Regions from separate parts of the Homo sapiens genome. Here all the other regions are linked to region 2. The links come from fine-mapping of genetic effects on gene expression. A gene starts in region 2. Each other region holds a variant in brackets. All regions are shown on one strand. Distances are from middle to middle.

Region 1 (5,142 bases), 98 kb before region 2:
TGGACCCTCCCTCAGGGACCCGGGGCCACTGTCCAGCCCCTGTCCAGTGCTGGGGGAGCGTGGCCAGGCCTGCTCCAGGCTGCAGACAATGGGCAGCACCCAGCACATGGGGAGCCAGGAGGACTCACAGGCCAGGCAAGTGGACACCGGCAGGGCCAGCCAAACACAGGAGACAAGGGTGCTCACCCCGGGCCGAGGCCTGAAGACGGCTGCCGTCCGGGGTCCCAGGAGGCTGCCCAGGCTGTCGTCGCTGACCCCGCAGGTCCCGGCCGTCTGCAGCAGGTGCTCAGCCTGGTACACGGCGTGCCGTCCGCCCTCGCCACCTTCATCCAGGGGCTCGATCAGGTGCAGGTCTGACCCCACCTGGAAGAAACCCCTGAGGGGAGTGGGAGCCGGGTGTGCTGTGGGCTTCAGAGTGGCCTGGTCCTGCCCCGAAGGACCAGAGGCTCCAGTTTGTTGCCTACAGCTCCCCCTACCCTGCCACCAGCAGCCCCCCGCAGGTGACTTCAGGCCCCAGGGTACAGGAGGGTGAGCCTCTTGGGCTTGGCGTCCCCTGAGCAGACCCCCATGCAAGACAGCAAAGGCCTGAGTGGGAGGAGGAGGCACCCTCCCTGCCTCCCTTCCCCACCCCCACCACAGGCTTAGGCCTTCCTCTCCACCTGCGGGAGCCCTGGCGTTCGTCCGCCACACCCACCTGAGGCCGGCACAGGTGCTGAGGCTGGCGGCTGAGTCCGGGTACCCCTCTACGTGGCCCTGGTAGAAGCAGTGGTCCTGCGGGGGAAGCAGGAGAGGGGTCCACAGGCTGTGCCCCCATGGCCCCACAGGCTCGGGGAGGGCCGCCCAGCCCCTACCTGCCCGCCCAGCTGCTCCGCCCGACCCATACCTGCCCGCGAGGCTGCTCCGTCACCTCGGAGCCATTGGCAGCCGTATAGGTCTCTGTGTAGCCGGAGCCCAGCAGGTCCCTGGAAAAGAAGTGCTGTGACTGCCTCGGCCCCCTCGGTGCAGAGAGGCTGGCCCAGAGGCTGGACGCCGGGGACACCAGTGTGCTGGAGCCAGGCCCGGGCAGGGGGGCCGACCCGAGACCCACTCACCTGTTCTTCCGCAGGTGGAGGGTGAAGTTGTGCCCTGTGGCCCCAAGGACGTAGCTCACCCTCTCTGGGTGCAGGCCCTGAGCGAGGAGGGAAGGGTCCCAGGTGAGCAGCCTGCCCGGGCTGTGCCCACCTCAATCCTGGGGGCCAGAGAAGCTCAGCTGGGGGGGAAGGGGTGCCGGCCTCCAGCCCCAGGTCAAGGCTCCATCCTGGAGGGTCCACAGCCTCAGGCAGGGTAGAGGGTGGAGGGTGGAGGGTAGGGGGCAGGGGGTGGGGGGTGGAAGGTGGAGGGTGGAGAGTGGAGGGTGGAGGGTGGAGGCGGGGGGCGGAGGGCAGAGGGTGGGGGGCGGGGGGTGGAGGGTGGAGGGTAGGGAACGGGGCTGTGCTGAAGGCGACCGGCGGAGCCCAGCACTTGGGTAGACAGGAAGGACACGGTGCTCCTCGGTCCTCCCAGGCCTCAGTTTCCCCATCTGACCACGCATGGGTAACGACAATGCCCCTTCCCCGAGAAAGCATAGGGTGGGGGAGGCATAGCCTCAGCCAGGCAGCAAAGGAGGTGGGTGGCGGGGATAGCACGCACAGGCCCCTCCAGCGACAGCTGCCTGCCTCCAGGACCCATCCCTTCCAGCAGCTGCCGGACCTGGTGGTGCCTGCAGAGCCTCCTGCTGGACCACTGCATCTCCAGCCCCCATGTGCAGGCTGGGGCTCGGCCTGCAGAGCTCTGGGACAGCCTTAGCTGTGCCACCGGCTGGATGAGCCCAGGGCAGCGGGCAGGTCGGTAGTAGGTTCCCCGGATGCTGAGGTAAGGACAGGGCTGGGGCCGGAACTGCCCTCCCTGGAAACAGGTGCACACATGCATATGCCGTGCACATGTGTGCACACCCACCCACTCAGGCTTCAGGAATCACCCTCGGGCAGCCCCAGTCGGGGAGGGGGGCATTCTCAGTTTCTAGCCCTGGGAAACCCCCGCCAGGCCCCCCCCCCAACACAGGAAGGTGTGTCAACTCTGCGGTGAGCCAGCGTCACTTCTCAAAGAGGAATTTGGCTTATCAGCCTCGCCAAGTGAAACTGGGGAGGGGCC[C/T]GGGGCCAGCACAACCTGCCCCTGCTCCCTTCCAGGGGTCCATAGAGCTCCTGAAGGAACGAGGAGGCTGGGAGCCCTCAGGCAGTGCTGGAGGGAGGAACGGAGATGGGCCCCAGGGGGCTAGAGCTGTACAGGGCAGCCCCAGACACCCACTGGCCTCTCACCACTTTCTGTAAGCTAAAGCTCCTTTCACAAAAATAGGCTCAGGGGCCAGCCAGGGACCCTCCCCAGGCCAGCTTAGACTCACCAAGTGGGAGGGCAGAGCTCGGCGGACTCGGGGGCCTGGCAGACGCCACGGCAACACGACCTCATACTGCTCCATGAGGGCCCAGGGCCGGCTGGGGGCAATCGCTGCAGGAGGGAGGGTCAGCAGGCATGAGGGGCCGGGGGGCAGGTTTCCTTCCCAGAGGCCTCCTGGGCCCTCAGATTCTGTCTCTTGCTGGGCTTGACCCTCCCCTGGGGAACTCACCAGATAGCTCTGGGACAAAGACTCAAGTGAGGGTTCTGTGCCTAAAAGACCCCAGGAGCGCCCCCAGGCATGGCCGGTGGGCCTGTGTCCTGCAGCACCCACACACAGTGCTCAGAGACGCTGTGGGTGCCAGCGGGTGCCAGTGACTCCACAGGTCTCCAGGCTGTCTCAGATCTCTGGAGGGGCCCGAGGGCAAGGATGAACCTTCCCCCCAGGGAGGAGGACTCGGGCCGCCGACCTGCCCGTTTCCATTCTCCTCCTCCATTCTTCTGATCATCTGATCGCATCTAACTGGGGAGCAGGAAGTGCCTCCCGGAGGCTGTTCACCTCCCAAGAACTGGAAACTCCCTGGTATCCGAGAGCAGAGGGCAGGGTCCCAGCATGCAATGGGCAGGGTTTCGGAGACCACCAACCCCAGGACCCTTTGCTCCCATTAAAACACAATAGTGGACGTGTCTCCATGACCACATCTCCAACCTGGAGAGGCAGCAGGGGAGCAGCCAGCCCCTATCTGCCCAGGAAACTGGCGGGAAGCAACCCGGCCTCCAGCCTGAAGCTCCTCAGCACACCCCAGCCCAAGTCACTCCAGGAGCAGGGGTGGGATCCAGGGTCAGCAGCCCCATGTCCTCCCCCAGGCAGGAGACGGGTCCCCTCAGCCCACACCCCTGCACTCCAGGCCTCAGCTTGTCTGCCCTCCCTTCCCTCCTCGGCTAAATAGTGGGGGTGGGTAGCCCCACAGGTGAATCCCAGGAACCCAGGGCGCCTCGCGCAGCAGGTGAAGCGTCCTGCTTGGCCCGGCCCCGACCCCACTAACAAGCTCAGAGGCGGGACTTCCCTCTCACAGTTCACCTTTGAAGGTTCCCTCCGACCTCCCCGGCCTCCCCGGCCCGGGGCTCTCCACCCAGAGACCACTGTGCACCTGATGGCCCGCTCCCAGGGACCAGCCCGAAGCCGGGCCAGGGTGCGGGGTGCGAGCAGGCCAGGGGCTCGGGGTCCGCGTCGCGTCCTGCGGGGAGAGCCACCCTGCCCCGCGCTGCGCCCGGGACGGTTCCCTGGAACCACTCACCAGGCAGCATCATCGCGCCCAGCAGCCAGAGCCCGAGGCCGCGCATGGCCGGGTCGGGGAGCAGAGGCGGAGGTGACAGCCCCGCGGGACACGGTCTGGTTCCTGCGCTCCTGGCCCGAGGCTCTTTTCCGCGCGCCCCGCCCCGGCGCCCCGCAGCCAATGGGCCCCTCGGCCGGTGGGAGGGGCGGGGCGCGCGGCACCTGGGGGCGGGGTCCGTTTCCCCTCTCCCCACAATCCAGCATCCTCCCTTGCACAGGTGAGGAAACTCAGGCACAGCCTGTCCCAAGTCCGGCCAGAGCCCCGAGAGGGGGCCTCTCGAAGGACCCGGCGGCTGGAAGGAGGTGGCGCCAGGCAGGTCCTGGAGGGGAAGGGACTTGTGAGGGCCGCCTGGCGGTTTCAGGAGAGGGGGTCTCTGATTTCCTGGGGAACAGAAAGCCTCAGGCAGGGGCAAGTCATGGCTTTGTGGGCATAGGTTCAGCCCTGTGGGAAGCTCTGCCACCCTCCCCCCCAAGCCTGCGCCCCCTCCACCAGGCTGAGGCCTCACCGGAGTGGGATAGGCATGGGCCCGCAGGCGTCCAAGTGGGGAGGGGGAGCCCTAGGTGGGGGTCCCAGCCCAGGTGATGGCAGGTGCAGGGGCCGTCCCTAGCCTAAGATCCCCAGACAGCAGCTGACGCTGGCCGACGTGGACCAAAGCCTGCAGCAGCCCACCGTGGCCTGGCTCCGGCGTCTCCAGGCCTGCGGCCAAGCGTGCTTGCCCTTGGTGACCACATTCCCCGTGGTGGGCTCAGCCTCGAGGGTGCAGGTTTGGGCTGACACCACAGCTCCCCAGACGGTCCACCCAGGACCCCTCCCTGGGGCTTTCACAGCCAGGCCGCCCTCCTGGAGTGGGAACAGTGGTGGTGGCAGGAAAGGCAGCTCAGATGACCACACAGGGCGCTGCTGACAGATCACATGGGGGGGGGGGGCCTCAGGGCCTCCCTGGGGAGAGGCAGGGCAGGGCCAGCAAGGGGCTGGAGGGAGTCCTGCCTGGAGAGAGGGCACCAGGGCAGGGCGAGTCAGGGAACTGCACGGGCCTAGGGGCAGAGGACAGAGGTCAAGGGGCAGTGGCAAGAAGAGGCCGGGGCCTCGGACGTTATCCTGGGAGGACAGGGAACCCGGAGGATCTAAGCTGGCGTGAGTGATGCTGTCACATTTTGTCTCAAAGCCATTCTTACCCTAATGTGAATGGCATGAAAAGCAAGAAAGCAAGGGCTGGCACTGGGCCGCAGGTGACTTCTGCTGCCTGGGGGTGTGTCCGCTTGCCTGTGTGGCACAGGACGAGGTCCCCCAGGCTGCCGAGAGGCTCCCAGGTAGGGCTGGGGATACTGGCCTGTGCCTGAGCTCATGCAGGTGACCCTGTTATTATAGAACAATGGCCAGCTGGCAATCACACTTCCCT
Region 2 (5,116 bases):
CAGCCACAAGGATAGATGGTAGCCTTGGTACCATTCTCTCTGCTTTCACATGTGTTTGAACATGTCCTAAAGAAAATCCCCGGGCCGGGCGCGGTGGCTCACGCCTGTAATCCCAGCAATTTGGGAGGCCGAAGCGGTCGAATCACAAGGTCAGGAGATCGAGACCATCCTGGCTAACACGGTGAAACGCCGTCTCTACCTAAAATACAAAAAATTAGTCGGGTGTTGTGGCGGGCGCCTGTAGTCCCAGCTACTGGGGAGGCTGAGGCAGGAGAGTGGCATGAACCCAGGAGGTGGAGCTTGCAGTGAGCTGAGATCATGCCACTGCACTCCAGCCTGGGTGACAGAGTGAGACTCCGTCTCAAAAAAAAAGAAAAGAAAAAAAGAAAAATCCCCAGCACAGAACACAGCCCACAGCCGCTTTCCTTCTCCTAATATGCCTTGGTCAGCTCTTCCCAGGACACCACTCTGGAGACAGCCCTGGACTCTGCTGAGACAAGGCACCAGGAAACACCTTCTTTCAACAAATGCCAACAGGTGAGGGGGTGTAAGGCAGCTCCTTGCACTTGGTACCGCCCCAGTGCCAAGACCTCTGGCCAACTGGACGCAGGGTGGGGGATGTGAAAATCCTGGGTGTTCCTGCAGCATTAAGATCAGGCACAGGTCCGGAGCAGCAGGCCAGCCCGAAAATGGGAGACGCAGGCGCTTCTCGGTTGGCCTGCTGCACAGGACCTGCGCCTGCTGGGTGGACAGCAAGGTGGGAAGGAGACAAAGGACAATGGCGTTCCAGGGGTGAGAAGGTGAACCTGAAAAGACAAAGGTAGCCTGTGTGTTGGATGCTTGCCTCCGTTAGTGGCAGAGCAGGGATCATAGTCCCTGTGCTATGGGTTTCTTTTTTTTGGAGACCGAGTCTCACTCTATTGCCCAGGCTGGAGTGCAGTGGCGCAATCTTGGCTCACTGCGACCTCTGCCTACAGGGTTCAGGTGATTCTCCTGCCTCAGCCTCCCGAGTAGCTGGGACTACGGTCACACACCACCACACCTGGCTAATTTTTGTATTTTTAGTAGACATGGGGTTTCACCATGTTGGCCAAGGTGGTCTTGATGACCTCAGGTGATCCACCTGCCTCAGCCTCCCAAAGTGCTGGGATTATAGGCATTAGCCACTGTGCCCCGCCGTATCCTGTGGGTTTCTAGGGGTAACTGGAAGATCACAGGTGAAGTGTCTGGCAGCAGTGCCCGCCATGCAAGATCCAGGAAAGGGCTGCTGTCAGGGTGGAGAAGCCGAAGGCCAAGGAGAGCATGGAGATGAAACCAACACAACTCAGTGGTCCACTGCTACACAGGGTGAGGGAGGAAGAGGAAGCAAGAGTTCTTCCCCAGCCCAAGGCATGGCCCAAGATTCCTCAGATACTAGAGCCGGTGATGGCCGCTCATGAGTGGGGCCCCGGGTGAGCCACGAGGGAGGAAGAGGGCAGCCCCCTGTGGCTGGGGAGGAGGTGTCAGCTTTTCCCTTAGGACCCTCTGAGGGGTGGCCCTGGTCAGGAGGCACCCAGGACAAAATGCACCTGCATCTCCTGTTCTCGGGCTGGCCGGCTGCACAGGAGCTACGCCTGCTCTTAGAGCCGAGGGAACACCCCGGATTTTTACAACCCCCACCCTGCGCCCAGTTGGCCAGAGGTCTTGGCACTGGGGCAGTACCAGCCAGCCGCCGGGCCTCCCGCAGGACGTGGCCTGGTGAGAGTGGCCTCCTGCAGAGCCAGGCAGGGGGTGGGGGTGCGGGCCAGGGTCAGGTGGGTGGTGTCGGTGCGGGGTGGCGGGTGGTGGGGGGGTGTTAAGCCTGGGTCAGGCTGTGGGTGCGGGTCAGGTGGGGGGTGCAGCACTAGGCGAGGGGGGTGTTGCAGGCCTGAGCCAGGCAGGGGCTGCGGGTCGGGGTCAGGTGGTAGGTGCGGGGTCAGGCAGGAGAGTGCGGAGTCAGGCCCTGGGGATGCGGGATCGGACGGAAGAGGGGTGCGGGGTCAGGCCGGGGGGTGCGGGGTCAGGTGGGGGGGTGCGGGGTCAGGCGGAGTGGGGTGCGGGTAGGGGTCAGGCCGGAGGGTGCGGGGTCAGGTGGGGGGGTGCGGGGTCAGGCGGGGGGGTGCGGGGTCAGGCGGAGTGGGGTGCGGGTAGGGGTCAGGTGAGGGTGCGGGGTCAGGCGGAAGAGGGGTGTGGGTTGGGGTCAGGTGGGGGATGCGGGGTCAGGTGGGAGGGGGGTGCGGTCTGGGATCTGGTCTGGGCGTGCAGGTCGGAGTCAGGAGGAGATTCGGGCCGCCAGCTCTCACCGCGCACTCACCCGAGGCGAAGGGACGCCAGGCGGGACAGCGAACCGGGGGCCTCAGCGGGCCGCGGACGCAGGACAGCAGGACACGCAGGGCGGCCATGGCTCTCTGGACTCCTCGCCCGGCCCCGCGGAGCCGCCCCCTCGCCTATAGCCTTTCAGGGCTCGCTCCGCCCACAGGCCAGCGCCGCGAGACCAGGCGGCCCTCGCGAGATCAGCCCGGGCAGAGTGAGCGGGTCGCTCTCCGCCAGGCCCCGCCCCCAGGCCCGAGCTGCCGCTCGCGGATCTAAGGCCGAGGGGCGTCCCCGGGACCCCGCCCTGGGCTGGGACCAGCGCCCTCCAGGCCCCGCCGCAGTCGCCCGCGCCCCCGCCCCCGCCCCAGCCCTCGGGGTCCCAGCTGGCCCCGGGGAGACCGCGCGGAGGCGGAGGCAACGGCGGCGCCTGCCGGGCTCTGCGCCGCCTCCCCCCGCCCGCCTGCCCGCCTGCCCGCCTGCCCGCCTGCCCGCCTGCCCGCCTGCCCGCCTGCCCGCCGGCGTCTGTAGCAGCGGACACAGCGCGCCCAGGCGCAGGGCCAGGCACGGTGGCAGCGGCGTGGGCACTGAACGCCACATTAGGAGGAGTTTTATTTTCATGCACACAAGACTTCAACAGATTTAAATAATAAAAATTTCATTCATTTAAGTTATTTTATTTATACCTTTTAAATATCTAGACAAGTATTGTGGAGCATCCATTTGTGTACTTGCCCGGATTCTGCAAACGCCAGGGTGGAGATAAAACCACCCTGGATAAAATGGAATGGAAAGCGAAACTGCTATTGTGACCGGTGGAGGGTGTCCAGGTTCTTGACGTCTTGAACAAAGAACTGGACAAAACGCACAAACAAAGCACGGAAAGAAGGAAGCAACAAAAGCGAGATTTATGGAAAACAAAAGTGTGGCCGGGCGCGGTGGCTCAGGCCTGTAATCCCAGCACTTTGGGAGGCCAAGGCGGGCAGATCACCTGACGTCAGGAGTTTGAGACCAGCCTGGGCAACATGGTGAAACCCCCCTCTCTACTAAAAACACAAAAATTAGCCGGGCGTGGTGGTGCACGCCTGTGGTCTTAGCTACTCGGGAGGCTGACGCAGGAGAATTGCTTGAATCCGGGAGGCGGAGGTTGCAGTGAGCCGAGATCGCACCACTGCCCTCCAGCCTGGGCGATAGAGCCAGACTTCGTCTCAAAAAAGAAACAAGAAAAGACAACGAAAATAACTCCACACTGTGGGAGCGGCTGAGCATAGCGGCTCAAGAGCCCCGTTACAGATTTTTTGGGGGGGTTAAATACCCTCTAGAGGTTTCCATTGGTTACTTGGTGTACGCCCTGTGTAAATGGAGAGGACACTTCTTGTCATAGCGGAAGTGTTTCCATTTGATTTAGTTCTAGGGAGTCAGCATGAATTGGCCTCCAGACCCTGTTCTCCTGCCTCACTATGTTCAAGAAAATAATTCAATTCAAACCAAAAATGAACATGCACCAAAATTTTATTTCAAGACCGAGGGTAAAAATGAAGACATCTCGTGTAAGTAGAAACAAATCAACAACAAACCTCAACAAACCTTTAGTAAACGATGCTCTATACTAGTGTAGTTAAACCTCTGGGACAGACAGGCCCAAAATGAAATGGCTCAGACAGAAAAGAGGTTTATTTCCTTCCTTCCTTCTCCTTCACCTTCTCTTCTTTCCTTTCTTTCTTGTCTCGCTGTCACCCAGGCTGGAGTGCAGTGGTGTCATCCCGGCTCATCATAGCTTGCGCCTCCCGGGTTCAAGCGATTCTCCTGCCTCAGCCTCCTGAGTAGCTGGAACTACGGGTGCTTACCACCATGCCCGGCTAATATTTGTAGTTTTTTAGTAGAGTCGGGAGTTTTGCCATGTTGGCCAGGCTGTTCTCGAACTCCTGACCTCAAGTGATCCACCGGTCTCGGCCTCGCAAAGTGCTGGAATTACAGGAGTGGACCACCGTGTCCGCCAAGAGGTTTCCTTTCTAACGACCCAGGAGGCCGGGCAGCTCCCGTCCTCCATCAAGTAATGTAGCCACAAAAGCACAAGCAACAAAGGGAGAACATATGTAAATTGGATTTCACCAAAATTTAAAACTTTTATGTCTGAAAGGACACTACCAAGATAGTGAGAGGACTGAACAGACATTCCTCCAATGAAGATAATCAGTGTCAGATAAGCTCAGCATCACGAATCATTAGGGAAATGCAAACTGACCCCTCAGTGATACGACGTCACACCTACTGTGCTGGCTGCAATAAAAAGCCCAACAGTCACAGCGGGTTGTGGGGGACGTGAGCGGGGAACGCTGGTACACTGCCAGCGGGAATGGAAAATGGTGCAGTCACTTTGGAAAACAGTCTGTTGTTTCCTCAAAAGGTCAAACAGCAACTCCACTCTTAGGTGTACACCTCAGAGAAATGAAGACAAATGTCCACAAAAACTTAGACATGAACGTTCATAGCAACATTATTCATAATAGCCAAAAAGAGGGAAAAAGCCAATTGTCCATCAACTCATGAATGGATAAACAAAATGTCATATATCCAAACAATGGATACATTAGAATGTATTAGACTATACAATGGACTCTATTCAGGAGTAAAAAAGAAAGAAGCGCTGATACACATTACAAAATGGACAAGCCTTGGAAATGTTATGCTCAGTAAAAAAAGCCAGACACAAAGGCCGTGCATTGAATAGGTTCCATTTCTATGAAATGTACAGAACAGGCAAATCCACAGAGACAGAAACTAGATT
Region 3 (5,142 bases), 23 kb after region 2:
CCGTGGTGCGGCCCCTTGGAGCGCCGGAAGCCCGCAGTGCCGGAGGCCCGCAGCGCCGGAACCTCAGAGGCGGGTCGCAGCGGCGCAGAGGAGGTCAGCTGCGGGAGCGTTTCCGGGGACGGTGCCGCCATGAGATTGACCCCGCGCGCGCTGTGCAGCGCCGCCCAGGCCGCCTGGCGGGAGAACTTCCCCCTGTGCGGTCGCGACGTGGCGCGCTGGTTCCCGGGCCACATGGCCAAGGGTGAGGCACGGCGGGGAGGGGCAAGGTCATGCCTACGGCCGCGGCGCCTCTGCTTCCCTCCCACCCCGGTTTCGGCCGTCGCCTGCTTCTCCCGGTCGTTCTGGGCTGGCCCCGCCCCTCCTCCCTTGTCTCCCCTCCTTCCCCGCTCTCACCCGCTCCCGGAGCCGCCGGGACCCCTTCCCCTGCGCAGCTGCGGGAGAGGCCCGTTCCCGCGAGTGCCCCCGCGGCGCAGCCTCGGACCCAGGGCCTGCTTGACCTCCTACCTCTGGCCCGCCGCCCCTGTCCTCTGTTCCCAGCAAGTTCCTTCTGCCCTTTTAATCCCCCGAAGCCTCCGTTTCCACATGTTCTTGACAAGATAGACTTTTCTGAGTCTTTTGGGGACTAAATGAAACAGTGGGTATGAAGGCACCTGTTCAGTTTTAACTGGTATCTTGAGTCGTTCTCCTGCTTAACGTCTTTGGTAATTCTTACTGTTTGTCACAATTCGGCCCCAAGAAGACCTCTGGGGCCAGCCCAGCCCGTCTAGGTGTTGTGATGGCCACTCCTGCGTCGGCTCCGCGTGTACTGGGGGCCGAGGGGGAAGAAGGGCCCGTGTGGGTGACTGAGGCTGTGTCCTCGGTCTTCGGATAACACTGGAGGGGAAGAAAGCTGGAAGCTTTGTTATCTTGGTTGTGTGTGGTATTCCTGGTTAGGGGACTATCGTCATCATCCCCGCGAGGTAGCAGGGGCCTAATGAGCCAGTGTTACTCTGTGTTATAGCCCAGATTAAGACCCGTGGAAGGGCCCGGCCCGGTGGCTCACGCTTGTAATCCCAGTACTTTGGGAGGCCGAGGTGGGCAGATCACGAGGTCAGGACATCGAGACTATCCTGGCCAGCATGGTGAAACCGTGTCTCTACTAAAAATACAAAAAATTAGCCCGGCATGGTGGCGCGTCCCTGTAGTCCCAGCTACTCGGGAGGCTGAGGCAGGAGAATTGCTTGAACCTGGCAGGCGGAGGTTGCAGTGAGCCGAGATCGTGCCACTGCACTCCAGCCTGGGTGACAGAGCAAGACTCCGTCTCAGAAAACAAAAAAGCGACCCATGCACGTTAAATATTCCACCCAGAGTCAGCCATGAGTCAGGTGGTGAAGACCGCATCTGGCTTTTGACACATGGCCCACCCTGTGGCAGGGTGCCTCCCAGTCTCCCACTCCGAGGGTGCGGACCTTGGAGGAGGCGCTCAGCGGATGTTATCTGTTACCATTACTTAGTACGCTTCCCTCAGATATAGTCTTTTTAGGTTATTTATGGTGGCGTGTCATTCTGGACGGTTCAGCTTGAATCGATCACTCTAGAAAGGTTGTGAGCCCCTTCGCTGAGGCGTCCTTCTGTTTTCCAGGGCTGAAGAAGATGCAGAGCAGCCTGAAGCTGGTGGACTGTATCATCGAGGTCCACGATGCCCGGATATCCTTTCACAGAGCAGGGGAGGCCCCTCTGCCTGAAGTCATATTACACATTAGAATTACCTGGGGAGGCTTTTAAAAATATGAATTGCGAGGCCCCTTTCTAGACCAGTTAATCAGAATCTGTGATGTGGGGTCCAGACTGCGTGTCTTTGAAACTTCATTGTTAATACATATATCTGCGTCACTCAAGCCTGACGGTACGGTGCAGCAGTGGAATCCTCTAGATGGGCTATGAAACTGTTTAAATGTTCCTGCCAACTGGGGCTTTTCTCCTGTACTTGAGGAATGAATTGGCAGGATGTGATGATTCGTTCACTGATGGCAAGAAAAAAAGTTGGTTGGCTGGTAAAGCTTTGGAGGAATTTTTACCTTAATTTTGCCACATCCCACTTTCAGGCCGCAACCCTCTGTTTCAGGAAACCCTTGGGCTTAAGCCTCACTTGCTGGTCCTCAACAAGATGGACTTGGCGGATCTTACAGAGCAGCAGGTAAAGGCCTTTCTCTCAGACGCCTTCAGCAGTGTGGCTGTGTTTTCCCGAGGTCGCTTGTTCTAACGGAAGAGTTGC[C/T]GGACGCACACTTGTCAGTTTGCCCAGGCAGGCTCTGCTTTAGAAACAGCCCTTTGCTTTGCAGAAGCGTGCCAGCATCGTTTCTCATATGGCGTGCCCCCATCTAATGTGTGGTTCGTGACCTGGACACCCAGGGAGTGCACGTCTCCTGTGGGAAGTGGCCAGGTTGTGCTGCCAGAGCCCGAGTGGTCAGTGAGTGCGCATTGTGGGCAGCAAGCCACCCAGGTGCCGAGGCAAGAGACCGAGGACACGAGCTTTTCCAGTGTAATAAAACATATGAAATAAGAATAGTTATACTAGATATAGGTCATAGATATGATTGTATATGAATATTACTAATCATTAGTTTGTAGCAATTACTCTTCATTCCAATATTATTATAATTCTTGCTCTATAATCATAACCTAGGAAAAACCAGGCCATACAGAGATAGGAGCTGAGGGGACATAGTGAGACGTGACAAGTGTGTGAGCCTTCTGTTATGCCCAGACAGGGCCACCAGAGGACTCCTTGGTCTAGCGGTAACGCCAGTGTCTGGGAAGACGCCCGTTGCCAAGCCGACTGTGGTCTAGCGGTAGCGTCAGTGTCAAGGAAAAGCACCCGCTACTTAGCAGACCGGGAAAGGGAGTCTCCCTTTCCCCAGGGGAGTTTAGAGAAGACTCTACTCCTCCACCTCTTGTGGAGGACCTGACATCAGTCAGGCCTGCCCGCAGTTATCCGGAGGCTTAACTGTCTCCCTGTGATGCTGTGCTTCAGTGGTCACGCTCCTAGTCCGCCTTGATGTTCCATCTTGTACACCTGGCTCTGTCTTTTAGATAGCAGTAGCAAAATTAGTGAAAGTACCGAAAGTCTCTGATAAGCAGAAATAATGGCGTAAGCTGTCTCTCTTTCTCCCTCTCTCTCTGCCTTGGCTGCCAGGCAGGGAAGGGCCCCTTGTCCAGTGGACACATGACCCACGTGACCTTACCTGTCATTGGAGATGGCTCACACTCCTTACCCTGCCCCTTTTGCTTTGTATCCAATAAATATTAGTGCAGCCAGACATTTGGGGCCACTACCGGTCTCTGCATCTTGGTGGTAGTGGTCCCCCAGGCACAGCTGTCTTTTCTTTTATCTCTTTGTCTTGTGTCTTATTTTCTTTTTTTTTTTTTGAGGCAGAGTCTTGCTCTGTCGCCCAGGCTGGAGTGCAGTGGCGCAATCTTGACTCACTGCAAGCTCTGCCTCCCGGGTTCACGCCATTCTCCTGCCTCAGCCTCCTGAGCAGCCGGGACTACAGGCGCCCGCCACCATGCCCGGCTAATTTTTTGTATCTTTAGTAGAGACGGGGTTTCACTGTGTTAGCCAGGATGGTCTCAATCTCCTGACCTCATGATCCGCCCGCCTCGGCCTCCCAAAGTGCTGGTATTACAGGCGTGAGTCACTGCGTCCAGCCTGTTTTTTTTTTTTTTTTAAATCATCGCAAGTGTTTTCACTAGTTGGTACTTTTACGTCATATCAGTGGCAACTCCTGCCTTTGAAAATGTGACTTTTTGTAGACTGGTGGGTGGCCGTCTAGTATAGGGCACAGCAGTGTCTGACCTGGTCAGAGAAAGGCCAGTGCTTCTGAAGAATCGGGAGAGAGGTAGACTTGCCCCTGGGTGGCCCTGCCTTCTGCCTCCCTGAGCAGGGACACCCAAGTACATTTACTACCCAGAGTGTGTGGCTTCAGGTGTGTGTCTTATGTTTGATCTCTCCATCCGTGTCATCTTCGTGGACAGCTAAATAAAACCAGCTGAATCAGTGAAGGACTTGTTGATTTAAACATCAGTCATACTTTAGGTCAGATGATTAACAGCACTGATGTTTAGAAATATGATACTGCTTTGCACTAGTTTCACTGCATGTTAAGGCCAGTGAATTCAAAAATTATCTGGGCGTGGTGGCGCATGCCTGTAATCCCTGCTACTTGGGAGGCTGAGGCATGAGAATCGCTTGAACCAGGGAGGCGGAGGTTGCAGGGAGCCGAGATTGTGCTACTGCACTCCAGCCTGGGTGACAGAGCCAAGACTCCAGTAAAAAAAGTAACATAGAAATGTTTTGTGTCTTTCAGAAAATTATGCAACACTTAGAAGGAGAAGGCCTAAAAAATGTCATTTTTACCAACTGTGTAAAGGATGAAAATGTCAAGCAGGTAGGCTTTTCGTCTGTGCTCTCTCTGACGCTTCTGCTTCAGTAGGTTCGAGGAGCATTATAAACTGTTTTATGCTTTAGTAAGAAGCAGAGCTTTGGAAAAGATCCTAGGTGTTGGTTTCCAGCTGCCACACACGGATGCGATCTCCTGGGGCAAGTGGGTCTCCCTGTACTGAGGGCACAAGGTCAGGCTGTAGACGCATTCCAGGGTTGTAGGTGGTCAGAGTCTTTTGGAGACTCAGGTAGCTCATGTTTCCAGTTGTATGTGGTAGAATTTTCTGGCTTGATGTGTTTCTTCATTAAAAGGTAGTTACAGCTGTCACTGAAGCCCCGGGTCTGCCCTGCTTGTTTTTGATGGGAGGGGACGGGCATAGGTGGTCCCCGGCCCCAGAGCTCAGTCTGACATCTGTGACCTGGACAGAACTCCAGTTTCCCAACACCGGATACTTGGTGTGCTACCTCCAGATGAAGGGTGACGCCCAGTTTGCCTATGAAATGTTGGGTAGAATTCCAGATAGGAGGTTTCTGTTTTCCTAACGGATATGTGAAAGTGGAGACACTGGAATCCCTAATCCTGTTCTGAGGTGGCAGAAGGAGCGGGTCAGTGCACAGACGTCCGACCTGGGGTGGCTCCATGAGTGGGTGTTTGTTGCAGATCATCCCGATGGTCACTGAACTGATTGGGAGAAGCCACCGCTACCACCGAAAAGAGGTTGGTT
Region 4 (5,142 bases), 120 kb before region 2:
CTGACCTTGGGCTCCTGACCTCGGTTCTGCAAGAGGGAAGGAGGAGACAGGCAGAGGGCCAGAGAGACAGAGACAGAGAGACCAACAGACACAGAGAGAGACACAGACAGAGTCAGAGAGAGAGAGAGAGGCAGACACAGAGAGAGACACAGACAGAGACAGAGAGAGAGAGATCAGCAGACACAGAGAGAGACACAGACATAGAGGGACAGAGACAGAGACAGTGGGGAAACAGAGACCAAGAGACAGAGACAGTGGGGAGACAGAGAGAGAGACAGACACAGAGAGACAAAGAGAGAGAGACACGGACAGAGATAGAGAGACACAGTGGGGAGACAGAGACCGAGAGACAAAGACACAGAGACAAAGAGACAAACAAAGAGACAGAGACAGTGGGGAGACAGAGAGTAGGGAGATAGAGACAGAGACACAGAGACAGTGGGGAGACAGAGAGGCAGAGACAGAGAGACACATACAGAGAGAAAGAGCAGGGAGACAGACAGACACACACAGAGAGACACATACAGAGAGACAGAGACAGCGGGGAAGCAGGGAGACAGAGACAGAGAGACACACACAGAGAGACAGAGACAGCAGGGAGGCTCTGGGCTATTCTAGGGCATCGCCCAGTCCCTCACTTGGTTTCCCTAACTTTTTTCTGGATTATAAACCCACACCTGCTGATCAGGAAGACTTTCATCATCCACACGGGTTTAAAGGGGCTTCCAGGGACCGGAGGGTCGGGCTGCGCACAGGTGTGGGGACGGCCACCCTCTGCTGCCTCTGCAGGTGGAGGAGCCCAGGGCCCGTCTTCCTGCTGGCCCCATCGGCTGGAGCCTGGGAGCTGGGGTGACAACTGGGTGGGGGCCCAGACCCCCCTCTGTTTCCCCCTAGGCCTCAAGGAGCCACAGAAGGCTGTGGGCCAGGCAGTGGGCAGAGGGTGGCCGTCCTCACACCTGTGCGCAGCCCGACCCTCCGGTCCCTGGAAGCCCCTTTAAACCCGTGTGGATGATGAAAGTCTTCCTGATCAGCAGGTGTGGGTTTATAATCCAGAAAAAAGTTAGGGAAACCAAGTGAGGGACTGGGCGATGCCCTAGAATAGCCCAGAGCCTCCCTGCTGTCTCTGTCTCTCTGTGTGTGTCTCTCTGTCTCTGTCTCCCTGCTTCCCCGCTGTCTCTGTCTCTCTGTCTTGTGCTGTCTTGGGCTCGGGCTGCCGGGTGGAACTGGTCAGAGGGGCGGCAGCCGAGGGACCAGGTGTCAGTGTCGCCTGGCCATCCTGGCTACGAGCCCTGGAGGTCCTGAGACCCCTCAGGGGATTCTGTGAGGTGACGGGAGGGACTCAGAGCAAACCCCAGCCCCTGAGGGCCGAGGGACCACCCGCAGGTGGACCCCAGGCTTCCCGACAGGCACACCCCACACACCTGCCCCCGTCCCGAGCTCCCTGTGGCTCCCCAGTGCTTTGAATGAAACCCAGCCTGTGAGCAGGAGGACAGGGACCCACCTCACCCACTGGAGGCCGCACAGCCTGGCTCCCACCCATCCTGGGGACCTCCTGCCGGAGATTTGCAGAGTAGGGGTGGAAGGGCCTGAAAGCAGAGGAGCCCCACCCGGGCATCCTTCCCACCATCCCGGGGCCTCCTGCTGCACCGCCAACCCCGAGAAGGCCTCAGCAGTCCAGCCAGCACCAGCCGGGGACTGTGTCCTGGTCCTTCCCCCATCAGCAGGGGTCAGGATGACCACCTGGGCAGGGGCCCTGCTGTGGGTCCAGACACTCCCTGGGTGCCTCAGACCCCAATAGCAGCCCCTCCACACCAAACACACCGGCCACCCTCCCTCCCTCCACCAGAAACAGAAAGGATCTCTGTGGGTCTGGCAGACGTGCTTGGCACGGAGCTGGCGGTGATAACGGGTGGCCTTCAGGCGGCTCCACTCCCTCCATTCCATTCCTTGTGGGGCCCGGTGGAGGCGGGTGGCGGGGGTGTCCCTGCAGCTGTCTCTGGCCAAAGGCAGCCCACTGTTAACCCTTGGTGGACTCTCCCTGCTGAAGTTCCCAAAGAGGGTGGCCTGCTCCTCCTGCATCGCATGTGGAGACCTCAGTCTACACTGGCCACACCCTGAGGCTGGGCCCAACCCTGCCCAGCAGCCCGTCCTGCCCCACACCTCATCTTGCCCTATCCCACCCTGCACCCCACCGTGCCCCGCTCTGCACCCCGGCCCGCCCTGCACCCCATCCCTCCCTGCACCCCAGCCCGCCCTGCACCCCGCCCCACCCTGCACCCCAGCCCACCCTGCACCCCGGCCCGCCCTGCACCCTATCCCTCCCTGCACCCCAGCTCTCCCTGCACCCCGTCCTGCCCTGCACCCCGTCCTGCCCTGTACCCCATCCCTCTCTGCACCCTGTCCTGCCCTGCACCCTGTCCCACTCTGCTCCTGACCCTGCCCTGCAGCCCCCACCCCATAGGTCCAGTGTCCCGGGAGTCAGCACTTCCCTCAGGTTATGTGCTGGTCCCACCGACCCCTGAGTTGCAGGCCGGGCGATGTCAATGGCTACCCCAGAGAAGCAGCCGAGGCCTAGAGCAAAGCTGACCGCTCCTGGACTCAGTTTCCCCACCTGTCAAAGGAGGTGCTGGAAATAGAGTTCCCTCGGAGATGGACAGAGTCTTACAAATGAAACCTGTGTCCACCGTGTGACCTGGCAATTCCACTCCTAAGCATTTACAAAGAGGAATGAAATCATCC[G/A]TCCCCAGAAAGACTTCAATAAGAACATTCTGGGACGGGTGCGGTGGGTGGCTCACGCCTGTAATCCCAACACTTTGGGAGCCTGAGGCAGGAGGATTGATTGAGCCCAGGAGTTTGAGACCAGCCTGGGAAACATGGTGAGACCTTGTCTCTACAAAAAATTAAAAAATAAACTAGTTGTGTGTGGTGGATGCACCTGTGGTCCCAACTATGCGAGACTCTGAGGCGGGAGGATCATCTGACCCAGGAGTTCGAGGCTGCAGTGAGCTGTGATGGTCCAAGGCACTCCAGCCTGGGTGACAGAGCGAGGCCCTGTCTCAAAAAAAAAAAAAGAAGGCTGGGCATGGTGGCTCACGCCTGTAATCCCAGCACTTTGGGAGTCTGAGGCAGGCAGATCACCTGAGGTCGGGAGTTCGAGACCAGCCTGACAGCCTGACCAACATGGAGAAACCCCGTCTCTACTAAAAATACAAAATTAGCCAGGCGTGGTAGTGGGCACCTGTAATCCCAGCTACTCGGGAGGCTGGGGCAGGAGAATCGCTTGAAACCGGGAGACAGAGGTTGCGGTGAGCCGGGATTGCGCCATTGCACTCCAGTCTGGGTAACAAGAGTGAAACTCCATATAAAAAAAAAAAGAAGAAGAAGAGAAGGAGAAGGAGAAGGAGAAGGTCTTCAAACAGGAACCACTCCAAGTCCCCAAGTCTCCTTCATCCACACAGAAATGGATAAAAAATCATGATGACTGTACAAGAAAGAAGCAGACACACAGGGTCTCGGGCCTCCCCAGAGCAGGCCAAACCACGTGGGGTGACAGGGCCCCCCCGGTAGAATGTTCCGTGGCCTGAGGATGAGGTAGTTACGCACTGGACGCATTTGCCAGAGCCCTGGGCTTGTGCACTTGAGACTGTTTATTCCGCAAAAAATAAATAAAATAGAAATAAAACTTGGGGCTGTGCGGCGGAGCCGTGGGGGTGCCCGCTCTGCGGTGGTCGGCTGACCCTGGGATGCCCTGGTCAGAATAACACGGGGCCCAGGGTCAGATGTGCGTCTCGGAAGAACACGGACCATTTCTTAGGATAAATATGTCCCATGAAATATTTAGGATGCATTCACACTGTAAGTTTTCATTGTTTCACTGAAATTTGAATTAATTGTGTGTCCTGAATTTTTACTTGCTACGTCTGGTGGCCCCACACCGAGTTTATGGAGAGGGCATGAGCTTGGAGCAGTGACCAGGACCCAGGTCGGTTCGTCTGTCTTCAGGGGGCTCCCGGGATCCAGGTCAGACTGAGGACCTGAGGCGTGCTGGGGCTGCCCCAGATCATGTGTGGAGGGCAGTGCAGCTGAGTGACCGGGCCCTGAGGCTCCTGAGGCTCTGGGACCCCATGGGATGTCCCCTTGGGAGCCAGGCCCTGGAATCTGTGCTCCAGGCCGGCTGTAGGGGAGATGGAGGGCTGGGCCTGTGCCCAGAGGCTGATCACCGCCTGGCTCCTGGCAGGGTCTGGGATGGTCTCAAGGGGCTGGTGGGCCAGGGGCTCAGCTGAGCCACCATAGGCAGCCCCCAGCCCCGGAGGGAGAGGGAAGCAAAGAGTTAATCCCCGGCCCTGGGAGAGCCCTGCCCTAAGCTCAGGGCTGGCGTTTCAAGGCTGCGTGTCTGTGACTCCCTCAGAGGAGATAATCACGGCTTCTTGATATTTTCTTTCTCTTCTCCTGTGCACACCCACATATCAGGAGCACTCGCTGGGCCATGAGAACTTTCCTCTGCCCTCCAAGGCCACGGCGGGCGGAAGGGGCCAAAGCCATTTTGTCCAGGAGCCTTTGTCCCCTGGGATTGCCTGGCCAGGAGCTGGGGCCACCGGGCTGGACCCCGTGTCTCATGTGCACACGTGCCACCCAACACACACACCACACATGTACACACTACACATATATATACACACCCCACACACCACACACCTACACACCACACACATACACACCACAAATACACACCCCACACACCACACATGTGCACACCACATATATATACACATCCCACCTGTACACACCACACATGTACACACCACATATATACATACCCCACACACCACACCACATGTAGACACACACCACACACATATACACGTCACATGATGTGTTTAGTACTACACACACACACCCCACACTCATACAAAGCACACTACATGCACACACACACACTTGCAGAGCCTACCCCTTTCTCCACCACCTGGGTCTGGACCCCACACTCGGCCCAGGTCCCAGTCCCAGGTCTCAAGCCCTTGTGTGGTCACTGCCGTCCGCTGCCAGGGGCTGGGGGTCTTTCTCACTGAGGACAGGGCTGAGCTCCCCCAGGCTGAGGAGGGCTCTGCCACCTCCAACCCCCGCTGAGCGGCTGCAGTCCCT

Evidence for each region. PIP is the estimated chance that this variant, and not a neighbour inherited with it, causes the effect.
Region 1: its variant is fine-mapped to the expression of ECHS1 in whole blood (TOPMed, PIP above 0.99).
Region 3: its variant is fine-mapped to the expression of ECHS1 in whole blood (TOPMed, PIP 0.96).
Region 4: its variant is fine-mapped to the expression of ECHS1 in blood mononuclear cells (TOPMed, PIP 0.95).

Annotation. Positions count from the first base shown.
Region 1 is chr10:133,273,068-133,278,209 of GRCh38, forward strand. It overlaps ADAM8 (ADAM metallopeptidase domain 8), which reads right to left and starts at 3,801. Exons shown (of 23, transcript NM_001109.5): 1 at 3,705-3,801; 2 at 2,417-2,520; 3 at 1,092-1,168; 4 at 884-962; 5 at 695-771; 6 at 187-376. The coding sequence starts at 3,750. RefSeq lists enhancers at 1,294-1,943, 1,981-2,240, 3,244-3,891 and a silencer at 3,491-4,050. The variant C/T (reference allele first, on the strand shown) is at 2,170.
Region 2 is chr10:133,370,914-133,376,029 of GRCh38, forward strand. ECHS1 (enoyl-CoA hydratase, short chain 1) reads right to left here and starts at 2,441. Exons shown (of 8, transcript NM_004092.4): 1 at 2,333-2,441. The coding sequence starts at 2,420. It overlaps MIR3944 (microRNA 3944), which reads right to left and starts at 750; the gene lies at 643-750. It overlaps LOC124902563 (a long non-coding RNA gene), which reads right to left. Exons shown (of 2, transcript XR_007062395.1): 2 at 3,823-4,293. RefSeq lists a silencer at 2,204-2,713 and an enhancer at 3,095-3,184.
Region 3 is chr10:133,394,092-133,399,233 of GRCh38, forward strand. MTG1 (mitochondrial ribosome associated GTPase 1) reads left to right here and starts at 66. Exons shown (of 11, transcript NM_138384.4): 1 at 66-241; 2 at 1,622-1,686; 3 at 2,072-2,176; 4 at 4,344-4,424; 5 at 5,079-5,135. The coding sequence starts at 130. RefSeq lists silencers at 1-207, 268-467 and an enhancer at 792-1,746. The variant C/T (reference allele first, on the strand shown) is at 2,255.
Region 4 is chr10:133,250,182-133,255,323 of GRCh38, forward strand. No RefSeq gene overlaps it. Among named protein-coding and RNA genes, the nearest start is that of MIR202HG, 4.9 kb to the left of the region's middle. The variant G/A (reference allele first, on the strand shown) is at 2,740.